Homo sapiens: one gene and its partners. The protein of the gene in region 3 purifies or fractionates together with the protein of the main gene of each other region. This does not show direct contact. Each region holds a gene or a part of one and is shown on either strand. Other genes may lie near its edges.

The links.
Region 1: the proteins of PPIE (region 3) and SNW1 purify together in Homo sapiens (affinity purification with mass spectrometry; 4 studies listed by BioGRID and IntAct, with this or other methods). This does not show direct contact.
Region 2: the proteins of PPIE (region 3) and GPATCH1 purify together in Homo sapiens (affinity purification with mass spectrometry; 3 studies listed by BioGRID and IntAct, with this or other methods). This does not show direct contact.
Region 4: the proteins of PPIE (region 3) and RBM22 purify together in Homo sapiens (affinity purification with mass spectrometry; 4 studies listed by BioGRID and IntAct, with this or other methods). This does not show direct contact.
Region 5: the proteins of PPIE (region 3) and EFTUD2 purify together in Homo sapiens (affinity purification with mass spectrometry; 3 studies listed by BioGRID and IntAct, with this or other methods). This does not show direct contact.
Region 6: the proteins of PPIE (region 3) and CCDC12 purify together in Homo sapiens (affinity purification with mass spectrometry; 3 studies listed by BioGRID and IntAct, with this or other methods). This does not show direct contact.
Region 7: the proteins of PPIE (region 3) and DHX8 purify together in Homo sapiens (affinity purification with mass spectrometry; 4 studies listed by BioGRID and IntAct, with this or other methods). This does not show direct contact.

Annotation. Positions count from the first base shown.
Region 1 is NC_000014.9:77,740,280-77,744,454, reverse strand, and holds part of SNW1 (SNW domain-containing protein 1), read left to right. Parts: intron 1-4,175. UniProt on the Homo sapiens protein: Involved in pre-mRNA splicing as component of the spliceosome. As a component of the minor spliceosome, involved in the splicing of U12-type introns in pre-mRNAs.
Region 2 is NC_000019.10:33,087,448-33,091,622, reverse strand, and holds part of GPATCH1 (G patch domain-containing protein 1), read right to left. Parts: intron 3,490-4,175; coding exon 3,355-3,489; intron 844-3,354; coding exon 758-843; intron 1-757.
Region 3 is NC_000001.11:39,744,996-39,749,170, reverse strand, and holds part of PPIE (peptidyl-prolyl cis-trans isomerase E), read right to left. Parts: intron 3,797-4,175; coding exon 3,673-3,796; intron 269-3,672; coding exon 83-268; intron 1-82. UniProt on the Homo sapiens protein: Involved in pre-mRNA splicing as component of the spliceosome. Combines RNA-binding and PPIase activities.
Region 4 is NC_000005.10:150,690,639-150,694,813, forward strand, and holds the end of RBM22 (pre-mRNA-splicing factor RBM22), read right to left. Parts: intron 3,603-4,175; coding exon 3,438-3,602; intron 2,670-3,437; coding exon 2,581-2,669; intron 2,389-2,580; coding exon 2,257-2,388; intron 1,244-2,256; coding exon 1,113-1,243; 3' UTR 154-1,112; downstream 1-153. UniProt on the Homo sapiens protein: Required for pre-mRNA splicing as component of the activated spliceosome. Involved in the first step of pre-mRNA splicing.
Region 5 is NC_000017.11:44,860,814-44,864,945, forward strand, and holds part of EFTUD2 (116 kDa U5 small nuclear ribonucleoprotein component), read right to left. Parts: coding exon 4,117-4,132; intron 2,970-4,116; coding exon 2,842-2,969; intron 2,094-2,841; coding exon 1,900-2,093; intron 1-1,899. UniProt on the Homo sapiens protein: Required for pre-mRNA splicing as component of the spliceosome, including pre-catalytic, catalytic and post-catalytic spliceosomal complexes. Component of the U5 snRNP and the U4/U6-U5 tri-snRNP complex, a building block of the spliceosome.
Region 6 is NC_000003.12:46,969,915-46,974,089, forward strand, and holds part of CCDC12 (coiled-coil domain-containing protein 12), read right to left. Parts: intron 1-4,175.
Region 7 is NC_000017.11:43,504,299-43,508,473, forward strand, and holds part of DHX8 (ATP-dependent RNA helicase DHX8), read left to right. Parts: intron 1-345; coding exon 346-527; intron 528-2,704; coding exon 2,705-2,899; intron 2,900-3,204; coding exon 3,205-3,390; intron 3,391-3,510; coding exon 3,511-3,721; intron 3,722-4,040; coding exon 4,041-4,175.

The DNA of each region.
Region 1 (4,175 bases), on a different chromosome or scaffold from region 3:
TTTTTTTTGAGATGGAGACTTGCTCTGTTGCCCAGGCTGGAGTGCAATCTTGGCTCACTGCAACCTCTGCCTCCCAGGTTTAAGTGATTCTTCTGCCTCACCATCCCACGTAGCTGGGATTACAGGCGCACACCACCATGCCCAGCTAATTTTTTTGTATTTTTAGTAGAAACAGGGTTTCACCATGTTGGCCAGGCTGGTCTTAAACTCCTGACCTCAAATGATCCATCCTCCTCAGCTTCCCAAAGTGCTGGGATTATAGGCGTGAGTCGCTGTGCCCAGCCTATGCTATTTTCTTTTTTTCTTTTTTTTTTTTTTTGAGATGGAGTCTCACTCTGTCACCCAGGCTGAAATGCAGTGGCACGATCTTGGCTCACTGCAACCTCCCAAAGTGATGGGATTACAGGCATGAGCGACTACACCCGGCCAGATCGTTGCTTTTGTCTGTAATGCAGCCACTAGAAACAAACCCCAAACTGGGACCACTCTCAGGTTTATATCTTTTTGTTTGTTTGTTTTCTAGAAGTGGATAGATTCATGCATGAAGTTTGGAATGCATTGAGTAATTCAACATTAATCAAGTAACTATTATGTGCCATTGGCACTGGGGGAGCACTTTGATTGTTTAGGACCATCTTCAGCATTGTACAATGTTTAGCATAAGTGGCACTACCTATAAATCCCAGTAGCGTCCCCATCCTACCCCCATTGTCTTAACTAGAAACACCTCACACATTTACAAAGGCACTGGGAGAGAGGAGTTAGAGGTGGCAGTGATGCCCTGTTTGACAATCACTGATTTTCCTGTTTTAGAAGAAATAGAAATGGACTGCATAATATATAAAATAGGATTTAAAAAATTTGTTATTCCAGAGACTGAACAGGTTATTGGATTTATGAATTTGGACTAAGATTTCTGATTTGCTTCCGAGAGGTCTGGTATTCTTCAGAAACGAGGGAGTTCTCACTGAAATATTAATAGTGAATGAGTAAGAATGGAAAATACTAGGTGTTAGGTATAAGAGGTGAGAAGAATCAGTGAGGATTCTAAGACGTAATATTCTAGGACAAGTCTAAGGCAATTCTCTACATGTGAAGTAAGTACTGTGTATACGACTTATTAGTCATACAAAATTGGGGATGAAAAAGTTTTTTTTAGTGTAAATCTTGATACAACCAAATGCTTTTTTTTTCCTAATTATGAAAGTGATAAATCTTTTTTTTTTTTTGAAACGGAGTTTTGCTCTTGTTGCCCAGGCTGGGGTGCAATGGCACGATCTCAGCTCACCGCAACCTCTGCCTCCCGGGTTCAAGTGATTCTCCTGCCTCAGCCTCCTGAGTAGCTGGGATTACAGGCATGTGCCACCACGCCTGACTAATTTTGTATTTTTGGTAGAGACAGTGTTTCTCCGTGTTGGTCAGGCTAGTCTCCAACTCCCAACCTCAGGTGATCCACCCACCTCGGCCTCCTAAAGTGCTGGGATTACAGGCATGAGCCACCACACCCAGCCAAGTGATAAATCTTGAAATAAAGGGCTTGGTGTATGTATTTTTCCCTCTGAAATAGTTATGTAAGAAATACTACATACAGGCCAAGTGCATTGGCTCATGCCTGTAATCCCAGCACTTTGGGAAGGTTGAGGTGGGAGGATCATTTGAGGCCAGGAGTTTGAGACTAGCCTGGGCAATATAATGAAACCCTATCTCTTAAAGAAACGAAATGTTACACACGTACTATACCCAAAAGAATGCCTTCAACGTATTACCCCTAAAAAACCGTAACAACTTTAAACTGACCCCATGATAAATTATATGTTATCTTGTTTGTATGATTTCACACACTAGCTAAGCTAGATTAGCGTTTTCTTTCTACCTCACATAGTGAATGTTTTGACAGGCTTATCCTTTTAGTCAGTCTAGTTCTTTGCCAGTTTTCTGTAATAAAATATCTGTTTCACAGATGAGTTACTACTTTATCTTGTTGACAAAGCTTATTTGTGCTTCTGATACTTTCAAGAGTATATTGTATTTTTCAGAAAACGCTCCCCAGCCCATTTGCCTCCTGGTACTCAGTTTCCTCAGCACATTTAATTCTCAGACTATAAAAATTTGGGGTTTTGGCCAGGTGCTGTGGCTCACGCCTGTAATCCCAGCACTTTGGGAGGCCGAGGCGGGTGGATCGCCTGAGGTCAGGAGATCGAGACCAGCCTGGCCAACATGGTGAAACCCCATCTCTAATAAAAATACAAAAATTAGCTGGACGTGGTGTCATGCGCCTGTAATCCCAGCAACTTGGGAGGGAGGCTGAGGCAGGAGAATGGTTTTAACCCGGGAGGCGGAGGTTGCTATGAGCTGAGATCACGCCATTGCACTCCAGCTTGGGCAACAAGAGCAAGACTTCGTCTCAAAAAAAAAAAAATGGGGGGTTTTATAATTAATTACTATGGAGGAATCTTGCTCTTCAGATGTCCTTCACTCAGCCTTGTGAGATACTAGAATCTTATTGATGCTCATTTGAAGGGTTATTAACTTTGGAATGCCCAAATAAGGAGCAGCAAATGACTCTTGTATGCTAAATTAGTATTGACACTTTATGTTGAACATACATGACTACCAGGGAGCCATTTACTTAGAATCCTTTCCTTATAACCGTTGCTATGGAGAAGTGATAAACTCCTCATGATTAACTCTTCATAGAATTGGTATTTTTTTCTTGTGTTGTTATATAATTTTCAGCTTAGGGTTGTATAGGTTTTTCCATGCTGAGAGGAAATAAGACTTTTGAGGTCAGATAGTAGCTGTATGATCTTAATGTACTGAACCTCACTCTTTTCAGTAGAGTGAGCTTTATGGTCCCTTCCAAAATCAACACTCTTAGAGTATGGTGACACTAATAACTCACATATCAGTAGTACGTGTTTTGTGCTAAATCATCTTAGGCTTTCTTACCTGATCCCTCTTCTCACTCCTGAGAAAAACAAGCTGGAGATTTTAGTGTATAGCCATGAGATAGTTTTTTCTGGGAAATCAGTAGCTTATAGAAAGTTCTGTACGGCCTAAAATATAAACTTATTTATTTATTCATTCATCCATCCATTCTTTAAAATAGAGATAGGTCTTGCCATGTTGCCCTGGCTGGTCTCGAATTCCTGGGCTCAAGCTATCCTCCAACCTTGGCCTTCCAAAATGCTGTGATTACAGGCGTGAGTCACTGTTCATGGCCTATAAACACCTTTAGCATGTAACAGAATATCTCTAAAATTCATTTATTTATTCATTTGTACAAAAAATATTGATCAAATATCTCCAGTCATTATTATAAAGCACAGGAGACACTTTTTTTTTTTTTTTTTTTTTTGGAGACAGTTTCACTCTTGTTGCTCAGGCTGGAGTGCAATGGCATGATCTCGGCTCACTGTCACCTCCGTCTCCTGGGTTCAAGCGATTCTCCTGCCTCAGCGTCTCATGTAGCTGAGATTACAGGCACCCACCACCATGCCTGGTTAATTTTTCTGTTTTTGGGAGAGACGGGGTTTCACCATGTTGGTCAGGCTGGTCTTGAAATCCTGACCTCAGGTGATCCACCCACCTCGGCCTCCCAAAGTGCTGGGATTACAGGCGTGAGCCACCGTGCCCTCCCCGTTTTTATTGTTTTAATACGGGAGACAGATAATAACCATGTAAAGTAGATAATTTCATGCTGTGAACAGTCTTGATCACAGTAAACAGTGCTATGGAGCAAATGATTGGGTGGGGAGGGGTTACTACTAAGGCAATCAGAAGAAGCCTCGATAATGGAGGACCTTTGATCTGAGACACACAGATTGAGAGCTTACTTGAAGAATGATAAACAGAACTCTGTAAAGGCCTAGAATTGGGGAAAAGTATGTTATGTTCAAGAAACAGAAGATGAGCTAGTGTGACTGAAGCATAATGAGTGAGAGAGTGAGAGTTGTAAGGGGAGATTGAAGGCATAGGCAAAGTCAGGTCAAGTTGCATAAGCCATAAAGTGGCTCACACTTTTTTGCTCTGTTTGGAGTAGAAAATTAGAAATAGCATGCATTTCCTTTAAACTTTTTTAATGAATGATGTATGATAGACTTATTAATATAAGACTTTGGCTTGTAGTGGTAAACAGTTCTACAAAAAAAAATTCTGGAGATCTCAAGTGCCTA
Region 2 (4,175 bases), on a different chromosome or scaffold from region 3:
GATGCTCTCCCTCCCTATTTAATCTTTATCATGGGTGAATCCGCGACCAGGTTTTAAGGTAGCAGAAGTTTAATTTTAGTTCAGTCACTCACAGTTCTTTACTGCAGTGTGCCTGAGAGTTACTGTGGAAAGCTGCAGACCCAGCACCATGGATACTGAGCTTTTGAGGCAATAGAGGCTTTACTTTTTTTTTTTTTTTTTTTTTTTTTGAGACGGAGTCTTGCTCTGTCGCCCAGGCTGGAGTGCAGTGGCGCAATCTCAGCTCACTGCAAGCTCTGCCTCCTGGGTTCACGCCATTCTCCTGCCTCAGCCTCCCGAGTAGCTGGGACTACAGGCACCCGCCACCACACCCGGCTAATTTTTTGTATTTTGTTTAGTAGAGACGGGGTTTCACCGTGTTAGCCAGGATGGTCTTGATCTCCTGACCTCGTGATCCGCCTGTCTCGGCCTCCCAAAGTGCTGGGATTACAGGCGTGAGCCACCGCACCCAGCCACGAGGCTTTTCAAGTAAATTGCCTGTATATGACTTTCCCCTTACACTCTTGATTTTAGAAATTGGCCCCAGTATAAAATGCTCCTCCAATGAACAAGACTCTACTGATGTACAGGACACTGCACATCAAATACCTAAAAGATAAAGCCTTACAAACAAAGAGGAAATCGTACATTGGACCTTCTGGGGAGAGAGAAGGCAGTTACAGCAACCAACTAGACCTGTCCCACCAGCTAATTGGCAATTAAAGTTTTGCACACGCACCTCTTCATCCATAAAATCTTCAGGACCAAGAACAGATTTGTCTGCTCTGTTCTGTCGTGAAGACACAAAGGTAGAGGGTGTCCATCCTGAAAAAAAAAGAGTTTAGAACTTTACAATCCTAGAGAGTATTTGGGTCTATGAGTAAATGATTAAATAACATGTATGGACTTGAAATTCCCAATAACTATAAACTCTTAGCTACTTCCCATCTCAGTGCTTATATAGACGTAATTATTCCACATAAATTTCTTATTAATCCCTGTATCCCCTGATGTAAAACTTAGTGGATACATTAAGGTTTCCCCATAAGAAAGTGAAACCAAGAGATATAGAATTACACATTGAAAGTTAAACTGTGAAATGAACACAAGCAGATCTGAGCTGACAGATGCAAGGTCACCTTAAAATGCAGGACGTGAGACCAGCAACCTCCACTGGCATATTAACATATCTAAAGAAATGATGTCATCGCTTCTAGGCCTTTTGGCTAAGATCAAGTGTAAAGATATGATGTCAAGGTGTTTTAATCAGTCAGAGTGGATAAAGAGAGAGTAACAGAAGGAATCCAGGCAACATTCACAGTACCCTGACCAAAGACTCAACCTGGCAGGTCCAAGGGCAGCGGCTCTGCCAGTCCCCCAGTTTCAACAGACACTGGAATCCTGTAACCAATGGCCTTGTTCCCTGACCACGGTTACCGAGCATGTGCCACGTCCACAAACAGGGAATGCTCTGGAGGTCACATATGTCTGTAACCTCTGCACATAAAGTTGTTTAGTTTTCTCTAAGAGGGTTGCACCTCCTTCCTGATTCTCTCCAAGGGCCCTGTGAGCTGAGGCATCTGGGGAAGGTCTACTCTCAGTAGGTGCACCACTGCACTAAAGCCTGGGCGACAGAGTGAGACCCTGTCTCAAAAAATAAATCAATTAATTAAATAAAATGGTAAGGCCGGGCATGGTGGCTCACGCCTGTAATCCCAGCACTTGGGGAAGCTGAGGCGGGTGGAACACTTGAGGTCAGGAGTTCGAGACCAGCCTGAACAACATGGTGAAACCCCATCTCTACTAAAATACAAAAATCAGCCGGGTGTGGTGGCGGGCACCTGTAGTCCTAGCTACTCGGGAGGCTGAGGCAGGAGAATTGCTTGAACCCAGGAGGCGGAGGTTGAAGTGAGCCGAGGTCATGCCATTGCACTCCAGCCTGGGCGACAGAGTGAGACTACATCTCAGGAAAAAAAAAAAAAAATTATAAAAGATCTAGCCCATCTTTTTCTTGATAATTGCTATGTGAATTAATCAGTTCATCTTCCGTGCTCACTATGGCAGCACATATAATAAAATCAGTTCATCTTCCATTCATAACTGAGATATAGAAAGCCATTTCTTCCAGTTCAAAAAAATGCTTCTAGATTAATATATCTTAAAACATACAATACTTTAAACAACTTGGCATTTATAAAAGTACATAACATAAAAGATTTAACTGACTTTTCCCCAGGTAGAGAGCACTGAGGAGCCAGTCTTGCTGTGGTCCCCAGTGTCTGAAGAGGGCACCTGGTGACTCTTCCCTCAGCACTAACGCCATGCTGGCTCCTTAACCTCTCTGACCCTTGGTGGCATCATCTGCAAGATCCCTGTGACACCTGCCCTCCTCACTCACTCAGTCACGAGAGACAGTCAATGATTAACTGAAAGACTCTGTTTAAGAGTATTTCGTGAATGGCAAGACACAATAAAAACCAAAGTCATTATTATCATTTAATCATCTGATTAGGAGGTATGCATTTTTTTACAAAGTGAAAGAAAACTCTTTAACCATAAGGTTGCAATCAATGAACAAGATACAAGTTGACTCTGGAAACATCCAAATATCCAAAGAACACAAGAGGTTACAGTGTATGTTCAGAGAAAGCTGAGCGCAGTGGCTCACACCTGTAATCCCAGCACTTTGGGAGGCCAAGACAGGCGGATCACTTGAGGCCAGGAGTTAGAGACCACACTGGCCAACATAGTGAAACCCTGTCTCTATAAACACAAAAAAAATTAGCTGGGCATGGTGGCAGGCGCCTGTAATTCCACCTACTTGGGAGGCTGAGGCAGGAGAATCGCTTGAACCCGGGAGGCGGAGGTTGCAGTGAGCCAAGATCACACCACTGCCCTCCAGCCTGGGCAACAGTGCAAGACTCCATCGCAAAAAAAAAAAAAAAAGCAAAGGTGGCCGGGTGCAGTGGCTCACACCTGCAATCCCAGCACTTTTGGAGGCCAAGGTGGGCAGATCACTCAAGGTCAAGACTTTGAGACCAGCCTGGCCAACATGGTGAAACTCCTGTCTCTACTAAAAGTATTTTTTTTTAAATTAGCCAGGCATAGTGGCATGCGCCTGTTATCCCAGCTAATTGGAAGGCTGAGGCAGGAGAATCGCTTAATCCAGGAGGCGGAGGTTGCAGTAAGCCAAGATCACACAACAGCACTCCAGCCTGGGCGACAGAGCGAGACTCTTGTCTCAAAATTAAAAAAAAAAAAAGCAAGGGTGAGGGAGAATCAATATTTTGATCATTTGCTTTAATGGTATAATAGCTACAATTAGGAAAATGATACCTTCTTTTGAGCCAACAGTATTGAAGTATCCAGCAGAGAAACCTCCACTAAAGGCCCCGTGGAATCGTTTATACCTTCCTTTTTCATCTCTGACAGTCTGATCCTGAAGAGGGATTGGTTTCTTTGGTCTTTCACCTAAAAAAAAAAAAAAAAAAAGTTTTTTAAATGAAAAAGAGAGGAGATGGTCGGTTCAAATTTAGGGAAAATGTCACTTTTTAAATATCATAAATTGTTTACTTCTTATAATTCAAATATAATCATTTAAATTGTTATTCCTAGACTTTACTGCTTTATATAGCCTAGAAAACAATATATTTTATAAGCTTATGTAATAATGATTGCCCTCTTTTCCCACTAAATTCCATTACAAAACCTGGTCAACATGGCAAAATCCCGGCTCTACTAACAAATACAAAAATTAACCGGGCGTGGTGGCAGACGTCTGTAATCCCAGCTACTTAGGAGGCTGAGGCAGGAGAATCGCTTGAACCCGAGAGGTGGAGGTTGCAGTGAGCCGAGATCACACCACTGCACTCCAGCATGGGAGACACAGCGAGACTTCTCCCCCAAAAAAAAAAAAAAAAATTATAATGTCAGGAGAGTTCCGACAGATGAAACTGAAATCTCCTGGCTTCAAATGAAGGGCGCAGAAGCTGGGGTGGCACTTGGCAAGGAGAGATACACTTCCATACCTCTTCTAGAACGTCACACCATCCCTGAATCCGGCATTTTTCCTTTGGTATTGCCTATTTTCCCCGACTCCTAAGAGTTTCCTTAATTTCTGTGAATCTCCTGATTCCACAGTGTTCTTTAAACCTATT
Region 3 (4,175 bases):
ACTACAACCTGTCCTTCCATCCTGCCTGGCCATCCCACCCTTGCCCAGCCTCCCTCGTCACCACATGCCAACTGGCTCCTACCTGGTCCCGTATGCTTGAGGATAAAGTTTTCATCATCGAACTTCTTCCCATAGATGGACTTGCCCCCAGTGCCATTGTGGTTTGTGAAATCACCGCCCTGGCACATGAACTGGGGGATGATGCGGTGGAAGCTGCTTCCCTTAAAGCCAAAGCCCTTTTCATGAGTGCACAGGCAGCGGAAATTCTCTGGAATTGAGAAAGGAAAAAGCGCTGGGGTTAAAAAATAGGACAAAATAAAAAACCTCGAAAAAACTTTGGTTTAGTGTTCATATTTTTGTTTTAAAATAAGAGATACTCATTATAAACCTTTGTGATACTAACCTTGTAAGGACTATAAGGGATTCTTTTTCCTTGAGACGGAGTTTCACTCTTGTTGCCCATGCTGCAGTGCAATGGCACAATCTCAGTTCACTGCAACTTCCACCTCTTGGGTTCAAGTCATTCCCCTGCCTCAGCCTCTTGAGTAGCTGGGACTACAGGCATGTACCATACACCTGGCTAATTTTGTATTTTTAGTAGAGATGGGGTTTCACTATGTTGGCCAAGCTGGTCTAGAACTCCTACCTCAGATGATCCGCCCACCTTGGCCTCCCAAAGTGCTGGGATTACAGGTGTAAACCACCACACCTGGCCAGGACTATAGGAGATTCTGTTGAAGGGGGATTGAATATACATGTTCGAGCTCTGTTCCCTTTTAAAACCACACTAAATTGGTAGGAAACTGATTTTTTAAAAGAAAAACCAAAGGATCTTAGAAGAAAACATAGGGGCAAATCTTCATGACTCTGGATTTGGTGATGGTTTCTTAAATGTCACACCAAAAGCAGAGGTGAAAGAAAAAAATAATTAGATTTTATCAAAATTTAAGACGTGCATCAAAGAACCGTACCAATAGAGGGCAAAGCAACCCACAGAACAGGAGAATGCTTATTTGCAAATCATATTTAACATGGGTTTAATATCCAGAATATATAATGAACTCCTATAATTCAACAACAAAATGGCCAGGCACGGTGTAATCCCAGTGCTTTGGGAGGTCAAGGCAGGAGGATCACTGGAGGTCAAGGGTTCAAAGCTACAGTAAGCCATGTTCTCACCACTGCACTCCAGCCTGGGAGTCAGAGCAAGACCCTGTCTCTTAAAAAAAACAAAACAAACAATCCAGTTAATAAATAAGCCAAAGATTTGAAAAGATGTTTCTCCAAAGAAGATATACAAATGGTCAACAAGCACATGAAAAGATGTTCAACATCATTAGTCAGTAGGGAATAAAAATAAAAACCACAATGAGATGCCATGTCACACCTGTTAAGAGAAGATGTGGGCCAGGCATGGTGGCTCACGCCTGTAATCCCAGCACTATGGGAGGCCGAGGCAGGCGAATCATGAGGTCAGGAGTTTGAGACCAGCCTGGCCAACCAACATGGTGAAACCTCGTCTCTACTAAAAATACAAAAAATTGGCTGGGCATGGTGGCAGACGCCTGTAATCCCAGCTACTCGGGAGGCTGAGGCACAAGAATCACTTGAACCTGGGAGGCGGAGGTTGCAGTGAGCCAATATCACGCCACTGTACTCCAGCCCGGGCAACAGTGCGAGACTCTGTCTCAAAAAAAAAAAAAAAAAAAAAAAAAGAGAAGATGTGGAAAAACTGAAACACTCATACATTGCTGGTAGAAATGTAAAATGGTCCAGCCACTGTGGAAAATAGTTTGGCATTTCCTCAAAAAGTTAAATACAGAGTTACCATATGACTAAGCATTTCCATTCCTAGGCATATATATCCAAAAGAATTGAAAACAGGAATTTAAACATATACTTACATGTGGATATTCACACAGGCATTTACAATAGTCAAAAGGTGAAAACAATGTGCAAGTGCCCATCAACAAATGAATGAACAAGATATTTATCCAAATACAACGGAATATTATTCAGCCACAAAAAGGAATGAGGCACTGATACATGGTACAAGGATGAACCTTGAAAGCATTATGCTATGCAAAATCAACAAGGCGTGGAAAAGGACAGCTATTGTATGATTCCACTTACATGAAAAATCTAGGATAGGCCAATTCATAGACACAAAGATTAGAGGTTATCAGAAGCTAAGGGGAGGAGAAAATGGGGAGTTATTATTTAATAGGTACCTTTAATAAGTGGTTTTGTTTAGGATGATTCAAAAATTTCGAACAGAGTAATTACTGCTAACAAACACTTTAAAGTGGCTAAAATAGCCAAAAAATAAACTTAAAAAGCAGGGAGGAAGAGACAACAGCAACAAAATTTCTGAAGTTAGAAAACAAAATAGATGAGTCCTAAATGATATAGCAGACCCGAGAAAGCTGAATCTTAAGCTGGTAAAAGCCAAGAAGCAACTCAATTTGCACTCCAAAAGCTCAGAGGAAAGGGTGCAGGTAATCCTGGAGACAGTAAGTTTGGCTGAAAGCCCATTTAAGAAAGTGGTTAATCTTTGGGATCCTTTCCCTGACTCTGCAGCTGGGGGCCACCCCTCCCCAACCTGGTAGCCAGCTGGGGGTCTAGTCTTTGGTAGGTTAAAGCAGAGGGTCTCTGGACTAGGACATCCTACGCATAGTGAGGGCTGAGGTACCATAATGACAAATGGAGATTATGTGAAAGTTTATATACTGAATGTTGAGGAATTCAGCCTTGCCCTCATCTCCCCTTAACAAGATGCAGACACCTGGATGCAAAACCCCCAGCAGGATGGTCTGGGAGAAAATCAGGAATGATTACACAGAAAACTATGCAAAAACAAGGCAATTATCAATTCCAGGCAAAACAAAATGCTGTGCATGAAAGGAGGTTATCACATGATGCTTACATTGTTAAAATAACTTAGGACCTAACCAAAATTATGGTACCTATACAGGGAAGATGAGGGGGCAGGGAAGGGGATTTTAAAAAACTAATTCTTTGTTCTCTGAAGTAGAAAATCAGAAGATAATGTTTAAAATGGAAAACAGGAAGTAGAAATATAAAACTGTTATCAACATGGAAATAAAAACCAAAACACCTAAGAGTTGAAATCCGCTCCTCTGAGGAGCAGCAAATGGTGTTGGCAGCAGGGCACAGGGACAGCACCAGGGGACGACTGTTTTTTCAAAACAAGCTTTGTGAAACTGAATTGACTCTTTATATGTCTAGATAATAAAATTTAGATTAAAAAGAGAATAGAAGTCAATATTTAATAAATTACAAAGAATACTCAATAAAAGCACTAGTTACTTCTAGAATTGAGGACTGGATGTAGAGAGGGGAAAATGAATTTTCAATTTATTGTCTTAAATATTATTGGAATATATGTATATGCTATTCTTTAAAAAAAAGAATACATTATTTACTTGTATTTTTAAAAAACGATTAAAAAACAGTAAGCCAGCACTTATAAAGCTTCAAAAACACCTGCTCTGACTTATCTGTTACTAGATCCCAGGATCTGAGATGCCTCAAATCAACTTAGGTCAGAAGCAATATCAAGGACACAAGAAGTGAAGCAGTAAGAACCTGGGAAAGGCTCACTGCTCAGCCACCAGCGTCCCGCCGTTCTGACCACAGCGTCCTGCTCACCTGCTGTCATGGGCACGACATCAGAACGCAGGAGCATCTGGATGCGGCCAGCCGGCTTGTTCCCAATCTTGATGTCCATGTACACCTGAGGATTTGAGCGGGCCTTTTTAGCAATGGGCTCTCCCTAGGTGCAGAAGAAATTGCTAGTTAGAGAGAGCTCCCTGACGCCCTAAGTAGGAGTGCGAGTATTCTACACACCCACCCAGAACACAACTCCAGTGCGTAGGCTGGAGCAAGTGCTGACGGGGAAGGCCTTGGGCCCTGATAGGGCTGCAGGAGGCAGGAGCCATGGCCGTAGCACCCAGCTGGATGCCCAGCGACAGGAGGTCTCAGCACTGGCTAACCTGAGCCTCACACACGGGGGTGTTATCTCATCATGCTTGCCCTCAGATGCATCTGCTTCCTCCTCTTGCTTCACAGTCACAGAACAGCACTTTTCTGGTCCATGATCCACAACTCTCAGTATCTTCAAATGCCAGTTCCAGCCCACCCACTGTCCTCTA
Region 4 (4,175 bases), on a different chromosome or scaffold from region 3:
TAAATCATCACGGAATGGATATAATCAAAAGTCTAAAGCAACATTTAAAAAATTTACAATATATAACTCATTTCTATTAAATAACTTCCACTGACCTCGAGTTCAGCTACCAAAGGATAAAGAGGAATCTAGAAATAAACCCATGACAACATGTGAAAAATTGACCCGTTTTAATTATTTAAAAACAAAAAACACATCAAATTTCCTTTACCATCTACAATTCAGTTATATCCAAACACTCTAAGACCAAACAGAAGCAGGGATGACAATGAGACACTGAAGACACACGAAGGTGAATGCTGAAGACCATCAGAGTCCCAGCAGGAGGTCACGTCTTTCATTCAGACGCTCCAATGCTTTTCATTTCAGTTTGTTAAAGAACGTGTTTTACAGGAAGTTCTTTACAGTAATTTCATGCCAGACACCAGGTTTCTTCGATGGTACACAGCTCCATGAAATTTGTGTTTCCATCCAGTTGACAGGAATAAAAAGGAATTTTTATTTTTGTCTTTTTTTGGGCCGTAGAGACGTAAAATGGTCAGATTCCTTTAGGAATAAATGAGGAAAAGGAGAGGAAAGAGAAGATCTGGGCTGTGCTGGTGCTGGTTTCTACTCATCTTTCGGAGGGTGTGACTTCAAGAGTTAAATCACACTTAGGCCACTACAATGATTAGTACTAGTTATCTTTTTTTAAGATGATAAAAAGGAAAGTATCCAATGGACATAAAAATGGTCAAAGGTTTTTTTACTGCAGGTCAATTTTTCCCCCGACCAAAAAATATACAAAATGAACATATAATTGGGAGGGTAACTCTGCTGGACATTCCAATTCACTCATCTGCGTGTCCCCCACACGGGTAAGGGGAACAGGCGTTCGGTTTTATTAGTCATGTTACAGCAGTAACCAGATGTGTTAATGGCAGCTTATTTACGGTCCATCGATCCTTTGAACAAGTATAGGAAAGCATGGCTGTCAGTCTCTGACTGCTCACATCTGAGCACATTCAGCTACCATGGAAACTACAAGGGAAGGAAAAATATATTTATTCCAAGATTTACTGGGAGTTTTAAGTGCCCTTTCTTCCACAGAGCCCCAGAGTGGTGACAAGGTGCTAGGGGCTGCTGTGTTTTCCAGCATGAGCTCCCATCCTCTGAGGGTCCTGAGAAGGATAGTGGATTGGTCCTGGAGCCCGCATGAAAGGAGGGGGTGGTCCCATTGGGTGGAACATGTGTGGCCCAAAACCTGCAGATACGAGAGAACAAATGTGTTAGGCTGGTAGTTTCCTTGATAACCTTTCAAACCTCTCAATCTTGCTAAGGTTAAAACCACCTACACATAAATCAAGGTTGACACGGGGCTTAAGCAAATGTCAGTTCACAAACTTACTTCCACTTGTTATTTCCTTGGTTTTAGAAACCTTTCCCCCACAGTCCAAAAAACTCCACAGCACTCAAGGTATCGCCTAGTATGTCATCTGAGTCTCTGCTATGTATCCAACATGCCAAATCCTACCAGACAGGATTCAGTCAGGATTTGGGAGATAAGAAAGAAATCAGGCTGATGGCAAAGACTGTGTCATCATTAACCTCAATGCTTGACACCAGAATGGAGGGTGCTCAGAAACCAGATTCTCTTCAGAGTATGGGCTCTCTGCCACAGGAGAACTGGCTACCTGTGATTTCCTTCCACTGTTAACACTGTCTACAGCAGTGCTATACGAAGTGCCAGTCCTCCACCTATTTCTGGCCACTCAAGACAAAGAGCTTGAGTCAAAATGTAAATTATACGACCAGGCACAGTTTAGTTCATCTGACAGTTTTTTTGGTAACAAGACTTTCTCAATGAAGGAAGGGGTTCACTGATTACATTTTGGCACAAGCTCCTGATCTTGTGGCAGACAGGTGATAAACACTTTGTAAAATGACACCCGCTCACAGCCCACACTGGGCAATAGTGCTCTAGGGCATCCATTAGCATTTAGTTTAGAAAAGGGAACAAATTGGTGATAGATCTTTGTAATCTAATAATCTTACTCTGCTGACACATATACGCGGATCTTTAGAAAACTGGCCCCTTTCTTCTCCTCGGCAGAGCAGGAGAAAGAAAAATTTCAGAAATCCCAACAGATCAACTTTACTGGTAGACTTCTACAGAGCAAACTCACAGGATTTGGATGTGTTGAACATGATGGTGAGGTTTATGAGACAGAACTTTCACAAGGATTTCTCTGGGCTAAGAAGGAAGATGGAAGTTACCTGGGGGTGGGGGTGGAGCAATGCCAGGGGGCGGTGGCAGAGCAATGTTCACCACAGCTGGAGGACCACTTGGGGGCAAGTTGAAGTAGTTGGCAGAGGCTTCTTCTTCTGCTGCAGGAGGAGGAGGAAGAGCTGGAGGAGAGAAAATAGTCAACACATAGAGGGGAGAACAATTGTGCAACGCTGTTTCTACCACCTTTACATTCTCAGAGGTCCTACTGGGAGAGTAGAGCGGCAACATGAACCAGACCTGGGTCCCATCTTCCAAAATAGGAACATCAGGGCAGAAAGAGCTTCTGAAGTCAGCAGGGAGTCTGCACTCACCTCCTGGCAATCCTGGAACAGGTTCTAGTTTGATCCCAGAGTCTGTAGTTCCATCTTTCTCTTTTTCTTTTCCTCTGGCTGCCTGGGATCTGGGAAACACACATGCATACAGTCGGCACTCTGGCCCACCTTATCTCACACCTCTGCTTCTTACATTCCCCAGTCCAATGGAGTTCCTTCGCTCTACCTCCTCCTCAGCACACACTCTTTTCCCATAAATGCCACTGTGCACAGTGAACAAGAGCAAAGGTTTTGACACCAGAAAAGACCTGGGTTCAAAAGCTGCTAGAACTATCATAAGGACCAGAAAAGGCAACACATACGTGTTTAGCACAGTGCTTACCACATAGGGAGCGCTCCACAAAGGCAGATGCTGCTATTAGCCATCACTTCCCTGGTTCCAAGTTGGAGACATGTTCCCCCTTTGAACTGGGTCTTTCACCTGTGTCTCTCTTATGCAATCATCACTTTTAAACTTAAAATAGCGATTCTTCCCTGTTTTATCTTCTCCACTGGACAATCAGCCTCTAAGGGCAGAATCTAGGTCTAATTCATTTATAAACCCTAAAATTCACCTTTCATGGCCTGGCATTATACTTGGCCTATAATAGCTAGTCACAAAAACATGAACCTTCAAAGGAGTAGATTATACACCAACCCCCTGAATACATTTCCAAAGCAGGGTTCTCCCAACATCCACAGGAATCAAGTATCACATAGAGAGTGATCTTTGAAAGATCTCTTTAAAGATCCTGTTCATTTAAGCCTGTTAACCAAAAGCCTACTAGTCTCCAGAAAATGAAATAGTTTCTTAAAAATCTAAGCAAAATGTCACTTAAAAATAGTTTAATTCTCACCTTCCCCATTTCACATTCAGTCTGCGGCCATTTACAATCAACTTATTAAAGGACTTCTCAGCAGCCACTTCTGCAGCCTGCCGTGTGGCAAACTGGATGAAAGCACACTGCTGTCTCTGCACAACAGTGATCGTCCGGATCTCTCCGAACTGGTAGAAATGATTTCTGAAGGGAAACAGGCAGAGAAAAATGAAAGTGGGAGTTAAAAAAGATGTACCCAGGAGACTGAAAATGGATTAACTTTCACTGACACACCACTAGGCAGGTGGGCCCCAAGGTTATCTGCCTAACTACCCGCAGGTCTCCACCCCATATCTTGTCCTACTGTGGGTGCTGCTGATTGAGAGAAGGAAAGAAAAATAATGAGTAAATAAAGGTTCTCAAACATCTCAGGGTTTTTTCCCATGGAGGAAAGGGGGTTCTAATAGGTTCTTTAAAGACCCTAAACCCTAGATAAGAGGTTGGCAAACCATAGCTCTCAAGGCCCATGAGCCAAGAAAGTTTAAAACAAGAATACGTGACAGAGACTGCATGTGGCCCACAATGCCTAAAATATTCACCATCCAGCCTCTTACAGCGAAAGTCTGCCAACCCCTGGGGGTTGTCTAGCTCACTTAGATAGGGTTTAATGGAGACAGGCTACCAAGGGCAGGTTATAAACTTACAGGAGTTTCTTCTCCACTTTATCTCTTTGGAAGAGGTAATTTCCATTACTATCTGCCCAGAAGTCTCATCTAG
Region 5 (4,132 bases), on a different chromosome or scaffold from region 3:
GTCTTGAACTCCTGAGCTCAAGCAATCCTCCTGCCTCAGCCTTCCAAAGTGCTAGGATTACAGGTGTGAGCCACCACATCCAGCCTATTCCACAAAAATTTACTGAGTACTTGCTGCGTGCCAAGAGCAGGGGTGAGCAAAACAGATACATTCTAGCAGGGGAGAGATACAGTAAACAATCATTATCCACACATGTATGTGGTTACAAACTGATGGGCATTATGAAAGAAAAGTACAAGGTATTTCTGTGAGGACATAAGAGGAAAATCTTATTCCAATTGCAGGCTCATGGTAAAAAGCTGCCCAAGGTGTCGACTGTAAGGGGCTAGCAAAAGCATCAAAGAAGGCCGGGTGTGGCGGCTCACGCTTATAATCCCAGTGCTTTGGGAGGCTGAGGTGGGTGGCTGGATCACCTGAGGTCAGGAGTTTGAGACCAGCCTGGCCAACATGGTGAAAACTATCTCTACTAAAAATACAAAAAATTAGCCAGACATGGTGGTGCACACCTATAACCCTGGCTACTTGGGAGGCTGAGGCAGGAGAATCGCTTGAACCCGGGAGGCAGAGGTTGCAGTGAGCCGCAATCACGCCATTGCACTCCAGCCTGGCTGACAGAGAGAAAAAAAAAAAAAAAAAAAGGCTGGGAGCGGTGGCTCACACCTATAATCCCAGCACTTTGGGAGGCTGAGGCAGGTGGATCATGAGGTCAGGAGATCGAGACCATTCTGGCTAATACGGTGAAACCTGTCTCTACTAAAAATACAAAAAAATTAGCTGGGCATGGTGGCGGGCGCCTGTAGTCCCAGCTACTTGGGAGGCTGAGGCAGCAGAATGGCATGAACCCAGGAGGTGGAGCTTGCAGTAAGCCGAGATCACAGGCACTGCACTCCAGGTTGGGCGACAGAGTGAGACTCCATCTCAAAAAAAAAAGCATCACAGAAAACTTCCACTTTCCCAGCTCTTCAATATTCCACCTTTTGGCATTTAGGGTGGATTTAACAAAAGGGACCACCATTGAGGCAGGGTAGCCACCTTAGGGAACACGAATGCTTTGGTTTAACTTGTCAACTGGGAAACCAAATTCATAAACTGACAAGTAGCCCAGAGGCCCAAGCTAAGTTTGACTGCAGATTGGGATGCTACAAGGGATCCAGCGAAGCCTTCTCTCTTGGTCAAAGAGTAGACAGTGGAGTTGGGGAACAATTTCTTTTGGGAAGAAACACAAAGATTATGACTTAAGGAACACAGGAGAGGAAATGAAAAGAGGATTAAGATGAGTAACAATGGAAATCCTCCTACAAAAGTTCATACAAGCTTCATGCTTTCAAAAGGGCTTTAAGATGGTGTGTGGTGGCTCACACCTGTAATCCAACACTTTTGAGAGGCTGAGGTGGGAGGATCACTTGAGCCCAGGAGTTGGAGACCAGCCTGGGCAATATAGTGAGACATTGTCTCTACAAAAAATTTAAAAATTAGCCAGACATAGTGGTGTGTGCTTGTAGTTCCAGCTACTCAGGAGGCTGAGGTGGAAGGACTGCTTGAGCCCAGGAGGCGGAGGTCGCAGTGAGCTGAGATTGTGCCACTGCACTCTGGCCTAGGAGACAGAGTGAGACCCTGTCTCAAAACAAACAAATAGGGCTAAAAAAAAAAGTTCACACGAGCCACCCAAAGTGCAAAGGCGAAGCTTCTGGCACTGTTCCAACAGTAGCTGCCTTTGGCCCCAGCAAACCTGGGACAGGAAGAACTTGAAGTCAATAGCCCTGCGGAGGGAGAGCCACTTTATCCCCTCTTGCACAGAGCCTTGCAACTACTTCCAAGGAGGATCACTCCTTCCAGCTCCTTGGGGGCAGCCCCTGGATAGACACCAAGGCATACTCCTGGGGCTCTGGTTGGCAGTACCTGGCCACAGAGATCCAAAGGCGGCCCACGGTGCATATCTGGGAGTCTTCCTCATCCTCCAGGGTGTAGTTCTCCCCCAGTACCTTCACAGGCTGCCCAGCATGAATGGTGCCACTCAGCACCCGGCCAAAGGCGTGAAACTGGACTCCATCATCTGTGCTGTACATCTTAGTAGTGTGGCACATCAGGGGGCCCTGGAAGAGGGGACAGGGTGCAGCTTCAACCACATCTATGCTCCGGGGAAGTACTACTCCCCGCCATCTTCCTTGACAGCAAGGACATGAGCTCTATGAGGAGCTAGAGAAAGATGAGGTAGTCTCATCTCCAAACCATGTTCTACCCCATCCCTCTGAGAAGGATGAATAGGAGACATGGCAGAGCAAAAATATTCTCCTCTTTTTTTTTTTTTGGGAGGATAAGGGCATTGAGGAAGAGACACAGATTTAAGATAGCAGAGAGGCACTATTGGCAAGATTACTTACTGTCCCAAATTTCCTCTTAAGATGTAACTCAATTCTCAACTGGCTGTGTATTTATGATAAGAAACTAGACAGCCTAAGAAATGGCTGGGAAAGATGTTTTTAAAAGCCAGGACTGACAAGATTAGCTACCATTTGTTGAATCTTTAGTATCTGCCAGGCAACATGCTGAACACAACCGTAACACTTCCTTAATCTTATTTAAATCTCATAACAACCGCTCACATTTTATTATGCTCGTGTTATAGACCAAGGCCTTGAGGCTCAGGAAATGTGAGTAATGTTCCCAAGGTCATAGCACTAGCGGTGGCAACATCAGGCTTTGCATTCAGGCCTGACTGTGCTCATGGGGATGGGGAGGCAAGGGTGGGAAAGTGGGCATTACTCCTGTGACCAGAAATCAGTATCCCCACACAGGAAGGGGAAAAAAAGACCAGAGAACCGGGGAGCCACATGCCCTTACATCAGGGTCACAGTCACTCATAGCCTCGCCGAGGTCGGAGTCCACACCACCGGTGTAGGTGTGCTCAATCTTGGGCTTGGCGCCCACCTTTGGAGAAGGGATATGCTGCACACACATGTCCACAAAGCCTGTGGATGGAGAAGAGAAAGCCATTAATACATGCCTTCCCAGGGAGCACGAGCAGGAGTTACTGAGCCATTCACAATGGTCAAAAAGCTCAAAGTGCGGGGACTGATTGTTAGCTCTAAAAGCTCTGGCACTATAGATAGTGATAGCCTGCTTCCTGGGAATGTGCTGCTAGAAGATTTGGAGTCACCCTGATGCCAGAAAAGAGCAAGCAGCAGGTATCAGTGGTACATGGTTCCTTGGAACTCAGCTGACAAAAAGTTTAAAGTACATCGATCTATGAACTTTTATTGGCTATACGCATTTACGTGGAACAAAATAAGCACCCCATCTAACATCTACTTAAAACAATTCCCAACCTGACTCCCCTTGAGAAACACTGCATGCATCTCTATTCAATAAGTTACCCCGTTTTCTGAACACATTAATAAACCACATAAGAGGGAACCCCCATGAGCACACTGGGATAGGCCTGTGTGCCTTCAATGGTATCTGGTGTGTCAGATTGATGGGCAGACCAAAATAAGCTATTAAAACTACGCACCTTGGGGGCCCAGACACCTAATTCCCACCGGACTTAGAATCAGAGACTGCTGAGAAGACCCTCAGCCATCACCCTTTCCACTTCCCTGATTTTACAGATAACAAATCAGAGTCATGAAGAATTAGGTGGCTGGCCCAGGGTCATCTCATGGAATGGCCAGGGCAGGATCGAGACAGACTCAGGTGGTTTTTTCAACCAGTCCAGTGTCTTTCTGCTGTATCACGTGCCTTCTGTGTAACTAACCAAGTCTCCCAAGTCCTAGCCTAGTGCTTTTTGCACTATTTCACACTACCCAAGCATCCACCTTCCCGGCTGCCCCCTGGAAAATATACCAGAACCACAGAGCCTGCCTCCCCATCTCATTTACTTGAACACTCCTCCTGGCAGGAAAATGTAATTCCTTTTGGTTCCCAAGATAGAATGTGTGCCATCATCCACTAAGGAAAGCAGCTAGGAAAAACACCAGTGTTCTGCATCTGAATCTGTGGTTTGTTGAAAAGATCCTCAGATTTCTGACCTCCATCGCTGGGTGAGAAAAAATTGCTGTGATACCTGTGGCAGGGCACGAGGATGACAGAGTTAAGGGGCCACGAGCACATTATTACCTGTGAACTCGCCAAA
Region 6 (4,175 bases), on a different chromosome or scaffold from region 3:
TTTTTTGAGACAGGGTCTCACACTGTTGCCCGGGCTGGGGTGCAGTGACGTGATCTCAGCTCATTGCAACCTCTGCCCCTACCAGGCTGAAGCAATTCTCCCTGCTCAGTCTCCCAAGTAGCTGGAACTATAAGTGCACGACACCATTCCAGGTTAATTTTTTGTATTTTTTGTGGAGATGGGGATTTGTCATATTGCCCAGGCTGGTCTCAAACTCCTGGACTCAAGTGATCTTCCTGCCTCCACCTCCCAAAATGCTGGGATTATAACAAGCTTGTCCAACCCGCAGACCAAGGCCCAGGACCACTTCAAATGCAGCCCAACACAAATTCGTAAACTTTCCTAAAACATTATGAGATATTTTTTGTGATTTTTTTTTTAAAGCTCATCAGCTATCATTAGTGTTACTGCATATTATGTGTGGCCCAAGACAATTCTTCTTCCATTGTGGCCCAGGGAAGCCAGAAGATTGGACACCCCTGGATAACAGGCATGAGCCACTGTGCCTGGCCGGTAGCCACATTTCAAGGGCTTGAAAGTCACAGGTGGCCCATGGCTACAGTACTAGACAGTGCAGATTAAAGAACACTATCACTGCACAAAGTTCTAGTGAGCAACACTGCTGCTCTAATCTCTAGAGCCAGGTGACAACCAGGAATTGCTGGTTGCCTGGAACCTGCAACTTGACAGCCAGACCTCAGCCCCAAGGGCTGGTCAGCCAGACAGCCAGTCTCCCTGTCTCAGAGCAGCAAGAGACAGCCCAATTCAGGGCAATCGCTCAGGAAAGCTTGGCATGTTTATGCCAAGTTAATCATCACCTTTAGAGAGCCTCCATTTGGCTGCTGAAGAAGAAAGAGGTCAAAGGAGGACAGAGTGGCCTCACACTGCCCTGCCGGACAGCACTGTAAAGAGATGCCAGAGTTTCATCCACACAGCCTTGAACTGTTCACCTACTCACCCAGCCAGGAACTTCTGGATGAGCATCAGGAAATGAGGTTCAAATACAATACAGAAAAGTGTGCCCAGGCTGGCTACCATCCCTGCTGGAAACCCTGGCTCTTGCAAAACTTGGCTACCAGAGTACCCCAGTCCAGCACTTTCAGACTGTACCCCTGCCCCTGTATCACTGCCAAGTGCTTGCTGTCAAACTCCCTGGAGCATCTCCACTCTCACCTCTATGCACCTGAATGTTCCCACCTCTAAAATGCTCCCTGGGAACACTCTCCTTTCCAGCTACCTCGATGACCTTCTCCCACTTCCCCATCCTCCGTGGCTCAGCTCAAGTTCCATGCTGCCTTCCCATGAAGCTTCCTCAGGCTCTGCCTGGCTTTCCCAGAAAATGAACCCCAGCAGTACTGTCTTTCTGCGTGTCAACGGGAACTGGCTGACCTACAAGATGCTGCTTCAGGCAGTGCTGTGTCCTCTACAGAATCCCCTTCCCCCAGGGGGTCTTGCATGGGCTGGAATCCTGGAATCCAGGAGACATTACTTCCCCTCCTCAGCCTTGGACATCCCAGCTCTCCTCAGCCTCTTGCCTTGCTCCTCTCACTAATAAGTGGCATCAGGTGGGCTGACCAGGACGTCTTTGTAAAACTACAGCTGCATGACTACAAGAGAGTTTTGCGCAGAATAATACACGGAAACATTGCAACCCCTAATCTTGTCTCTTTCCATCTGCCACAACCTCAGGACCCTGAATTGTCTTAATATCACTAAATTATGAGTTTATAGTCTGGTGAGAGTTAGGAAGAAAGATAAAACTGTGAGGAAAACCAACTCCATGCCTGAAATTCCTAAGGCCTCCAGCAAAACCATGCCCACAGTAAGAACTCAATGAAGGACCTGCCACTGAGTGCTAGGAAACCAGCAAGATGCCATCCTCATGGGGCAGACAGGTGCTCTCCAAGTGCAGGCAGAGAAGGTGCTCAATCCTGGTGTCTGTTGTCACATCAGAAACCTGAACTAAAAATGTGAAGCCGCTTCCTCTCTGAAGGAGGAGACTCAAGGGGTTTTATCTGGCCACAGCAGGCAGTCATACTTCCTCACCAGACTCCCCACTTAAAAGGTCCAGCAGAAAGGGCCACAGGCTGGAAAATCAACTCAAAGGTTAGACCCTTACCTGTCCTGTCCCCAGGCATTCACCTTAATAAAAAAAATCACTCAAGAACTATAGGGATTAAATATGACACTAAAAATACATGCAACAAAATCAAAAACAGATAAATTGAACTTCATCAAATTTTAAACTCTTTGCGCAGCAAATGAGACTATCCACCAGGTGCGGTGGTTCACACCTGTAATCCCAACACTTTGGGAGGCCAAAGCAGGAGGACTGCCTGAGGCCAGGTGTTTGAGATCAGCTTGGGAAACACAGTGAGACCCCCATCTCTACAAAAAATTAATTTTTAAAAAAATGACACTACTAAGAGAATGAAAAGATAATCCAGAGAATGGGAAAAAATATCACTAATCTCATCTCTAATAATGATTTAATATCCAGAATATATGAACAATTCAATGACAACTCAATAACAAGAAAAAGAGCCCAATTAAAAATATGGGCAAAAGGAATCTGGATACTTCTTCAAAGAAAATATATATACAAGTGGCAAACAAGCATATGAAAGGATGTTCAACATCACTCATCACTGGGGAAATGCAAATCAAAACCACAATGGGATACCACCACTTCACACCCATTAGGAAGGTTATAATTAAAAAAACGAAAAAAGAAGATGGCTGGGCTTGGTGGCTCACACTTGTAATCCTAGCATTTTTGGAGGCCAAGGCAGGAGGATCACTTGAACCCAGGAGTTCAAGACCGGCCTGGGGCAACACAGTGAGACTCCTGACTCCTTTAAAAAAAAAAAAAGAAAGAAAGAAAATAAAATAATAAGTGCTGGGGAGGATGTGGAGAAACTGGAAGCCTTGCACACTGCTGCTGGGAATGTAAATGGTGCAGCCACTACTGAAAACACTATGGTGTTTCCTCAAAAAGCTAAACAGAATTATCATATGATCCAGCTGTTTTCCCTACACATAATTACATTCCTCTCCCTGCTATATAAACCCCTGATTTTAGTTCGTCGAAAAGACAGATTTGAGACTGATCTCCCTTCTCCTCACCTGACATCACCCGAATTTAAAAAAAAAAAAAAGGCCCAGTGTGGTGGCTCACGCCTGTAATCCCAGCACTTTGGGAGGCCGAGGTGGGTGGATCACCTGAGGTCAGGAGTTTGAGACCAGCCTGACCAACATGGTGACACCCTGTCTCTACTAAAATAAAAAATTAGCTGGGCGTGGTGGCATACACCTGTAATCCCAGCTACTGGGGAGGCTAAGGCAGGAGAATCGCTTGAACCCAGGAGGTGGAAGTTGCAGTGAGCTGAGATCGTGCCATCGCACTCCAGCCTGGGCAACAAGAGCGAAGCTCCATCTCAAAAAAAAAAAAAAAAAATTAATCCCAGCTACTCGAGAGGCTGAGACAGGAAAATTGCTTGAACCCAGGAGGCGGAGGCTGCAGTGAGCTGAGATTGCACCATTGCATTCCAGCCTGGGCAACAAGAGCGAAACTCCATCTCAAAAAAAAAAAAACAAGAATTACCATATGATCCAGTAATTCCACTTCTGGCTATCTACCCAAAAGAATTTAAAGCAGATACTCAAACAGGTATCTGTACTCCCATGTTTCTTCTTTTCTTTTTTTTTTTTTTTTTTGAGATGGAGTCTCACTCTGTCGCCCAGGCTGGAGTGCAGTGGCGCATCTCAGCTCACTGCAAGCTCCGCCTCCCAGGTTCACGTCATTCTCCTGCCTCAGCCTCCCAAGTAGCTGGGACTACAGGCGCCCACCACCGCGCTCGGCTAATTTTTTGTATTTTTAATAGAGACAGGTTTTCACTGTGTTAGCCAGAATGGTCTCGATCTCCTGACTTCGTGATCTGCCCACCTCGGCTTCCCAAAGTGCTGGGATTACAGGCGTGAGCCACCGCACCAGGCCTTGTACTCCCATGTTTATAGCAGCGTTATTCACAACAGGCAAAACGTAGAAGCAACCCAACTAAACAAAACATGGTATACACAACGGAATATTATTCAGCCTTTAAAAAAGGACTGAGATTCTGACATATGCTACAACATGGATGAAGTGTGAAGACATGCTAAGTAAAATAAGCCAG
Region 7 (4,175 bases), on a different chromosome or scaffold from region 3:
AGTGAGTCAGGATTGCACCACTGCACTCCCACTTGGATGACAGAGCAAGACCCTACCTAAAAAAAAATAATTCCAGTGTCAAGCAGTCAGGTCTTCACTTCTCTCAACTAACCTTTTTTCTGACATCACAGGTGTGTAGCACCACTTGTTACAGTCTCTTTCCCATTCCCTGCTGCCCCTTCTATATTCTTTTCTTCACATTAATTTGTTTCTTTGAGTACTTTTGATCACGGGTCGCTGAATTGAGATGCTGCATGTGCAGTGCCCGCATGCCATTTTATTTTTTTCCTGGTACATCTTGAGGTAGCTTGAGGACAATACTAAGTTGCCTGTTTTCCTTTCCAGCGGAAGGCAGACAGATTGCTGCCAACATGAGGGGTATTGGGATGATGCCCAATGATATTCCTGAGTGGAAGAAGCATGCCTTTGGGGGCAACAAAGCCTCTTACGGAAAAAAGACCCAGATGTCAATCCTTGAGCAGAGGGAGAGCCTGCCCATCTACAAACTGAAGGAGCAATTGGTCCAGGTGAGAAGACTTTTATGATGTATTGGTGGGGAGTAGGGTTATTGTCTAAAAGAGGGGTGATATTTTTAAACTGAAACTAACGGGACAAGTATGTGCCTACTTGAAGTGGCTCATCCAAAAGAGTTAAGAAAGAAGGATAAAACTTTCTAAATACTTTTTTTTTAAATGGGGCTGGGCGCGGTAGTGGATGCCTATAATCCCAGCACATCAGAGGCCAAGGCAGGAGGATCACTTGAGCCTAGGAGTTTGAAACCAGCCTGAGGCAACATAGGGAATCTTGTCTCTACAAAAAATAAAAAATTTGGTGGGGCGTGGTGGCCCACACCTGTAATCCGGCACTTTGGGAGGCAAAGGTGGGCGGATCACAAGTTCAGGAGTTCGAGACCATCCTGGCCAACACGGTGAAACCTTGTCTCTACTAAAAATACAAAAAATTAGCTGGGCGTGGTGGCGCATGCCTATAATCCCAGCTACTCTGGAGTCTGAGGCAGGAGAATCGCTTGAATCAGGGAGTCGGAGGTTGCAGTGAGTCAAGATCACGCCGCTGCACTCCAGCCTGGCTACAGAGAGAGACTCTGTCTAAAAAAAAAAAAATTACCTGGGTGTGGTGGTCCATGCCTGTAATCCCAGCTACTCGGGAGGCTGAGATAAGAGGATTGCTTGAGCCTGAGAGGTCGCGGCTACAGTGAACTGCAATCACACCACTGCACTCCAGCCTGGGCGACCAAGTGAGACCCCATATCACAAATGTTTGTGTGTGCGTGTACAGACACACATACTTATGTATGTGTCTGTATATCTTCTTTTTCCTGGGGCCCCTAGAACAGTTTCCAAGTGGGCAGAGTATTGTGTTGCATGGACCAACAGCTCTGTTCAGTAATTAAAAATGAGGATACTCAGTCAATAAACTCATATGGGCAACTCATAGAGTGCTTCGGTACTCTATATTCTGGAGTTCTGATTTTAAGACCACCGAGTCTTCCTTGAGGTAATCAGGTTTACTAGTTTCTAGTGAATCCTTTCAACAATATCTTATATGTATACAAGCAAGTACAAATATATGCACACACACGCACACACATTTTATATGAGTACTGTGTGTGTTTACAGGTGGCAGTGATATTATATACACTGTTCTACATCTTTTTCCACTTAATGATATATCTCAGAGATTTGTGTGTGTGTGTGTGTATGTGTGTGTGACAGAGTCTCGCTTTGTGCAGGCTGGAGTACAGTGGCTTGATCTCAGCTCACTGCAACCTCTACCTCCTGGGCTCAAGTGATCTTCCCACCTCAGACTCCCAAGTAGATGGGACTACAAGGCATACACCATCATGCTCAGCTAGTTTTTTGTATTTTTTGTAGAGATGCGGTCTCACTATATTGTCCAGGCTGGTCTTGAACTCCTGGACTCAAGCAATCCTCCCTCCTTGGCCTCCCAAAGTGCTAGGATTACAGGCATGAGCCACTGTGCCTGGCCTTCTTAAACAAACAAACAAAAAAAATTGCCAGGCCAGGCACAGTGGCTCACACCTGTAATCCCAATACTTTGGGAGGCCAAGGCGGGCGGATCACCTGAGGTCAGGAGTTCGAGACCAGCCTGGCCAACATGGTGAAACCCTGTCTCTACTAAAAGTACAAAAATTAGCCGGGCGTGCTGGCGGGCACTTGCAGTCCCAGCTACTTGGGAGGCTGAGGCAGGAGAATCACTTGAATCCGGAAGGTGGAGGTTGCAATGAGCTGAGATCATGCCACTGCACTCCAGCATGGGCGACAGAGTGAGACTTCATCTCAAAAAAAAAAAAAAAGCCTTTTTTTATGGGCTGTATTATTTGGATAGGCTCTGGTTTATTTAACTAGTCCTATATCCATAGAAACATCGTTGATTGTAATCCTTGGCTGTTACAAACAACGTAGAAATAAGAAATAACTTTTGGGGAAAGATATAGAAATTTGGGAGTTACAGTGGGAAGGAACATTTTTTATGTATCTTTTAAATTCATTGTTGACTTCTTTAACTATATGTGTATATTCCTCTTTTCTTTGGTGTTAGAATATAGTAATTATTTTATTCCAGAGTAATGTAGATTTTAATGACCATATTTATATTCTGTTTAATGACCATATTTATATTCTGGCAGATTTTAATGACCATATTTATATTCTGTTGCTTTCAGGCCGTCCATGACAATCAGATCCTGATTGTCATTGGTGAGACAGGATCTGGAAAGACAACACAGATCACCCAGTACCTGGCGGAGGCAGGCTACACTTCCAGGGGCAAGATTGGGTGTACCCAGCCCAGAAGAGTGGCAGCTATGTCGGTGGCCAAAAGAGTGTCAGAGGAGTTTGGTTGTTGCTTAGGCCAAGAGGTAAGTAGATAGTGGAGTCGCTCGAAAAATACCAGAAGCAAAGGCCCAGGTCTCTTAATCTATCAAATGGAAATATTAATAATACTGCCTTTTTTCAGGTTTCTCCTGAGGGAGAGAGGGTTCCCATTGTCATAATCAGTCTGTTCAGAGTATAGTCTAAGACATACCTTACTATGAGGAAATTACTGTACATCTTGATCAGATTCTTAAGATTATGAGTGAGAGTGACTGGGCTGAAATCTTGCCTGGTGATTGGGAAAAGGAGACATTTGTATCCTAGGTTTTCCCCTTCTCTTCTGCTTTAGGTGGGCTACACCATTCGATTTGAGGACTGCACTAGCCCTGAAACAGTCATCAAGTACATGACAGATGGGATGTTGCTTAGAGAGTGCTTGATTGACCCTGACCTCACTCAGTACGCGATCATCATGTTGGACGAGGCACATGAGAGGACAATTCACACTGATGTGCTCTTTGGATTGTTGAAAAAGGTAACTAGATGCTCTTTAATGACCCCTCTACCTGTTGGAAGCTGAATTCTGGCAGTTGGATTTGAGTACCTGTGTCTTTGGGTAGTCCTTTTCAGTAAGCCACATAATATTTCTCTTCAGACAGTTCAGAAACGGCAGGACATGAAGCTGATTGTCACCTCAGCCACCTTGGATGCAGTGAAGTTTTCTCAATACTTCTATGAAGCTCCCATTTTCACCATCCCAGGTCGAACATATCCAGTGGAAATACTGTACACAAAGGAACCTGAGACAGATTATCTGGATGCCAGCCTGATTACTGTTATGCAGATTCATTTAACAGAACCACCAGGTAAGGGGAAAAAGCAATTTTCCTTTTTGGGAGGCCTAATTTTCCCTCTTAGGCCAAAAGTCCTCATATGGGTATCTTTTTTGCTAATCTTTTTAAAAACAACTTCTAAATATTCATCTCTCTGCAAGCCTCAGGCTTGTATGTTTGAAATGATGGTGGTTATAATGTCATATATAAACAAACTTGTATTGTTTACTTACTGGTCAGAATATGAATGCATATGTTCTGTTATTTGAAGTTTTATTAATATCACCATAGCCCTTGTATAGGACACACATACACACACAGAAAGTAGATGAATGTTCTATTCTGCTCGTAGGTGATATCCTGGTCTTCCTGACTGGTCAGGAAGAAATTGATACTGCTTGTGAGATCCTGTATGAAAGAATGAAATCCCTGGGACCTGATGTTCCAGAGTTAATTATCCTCCCAGTGTACTCTGCTCTTCCCAGTG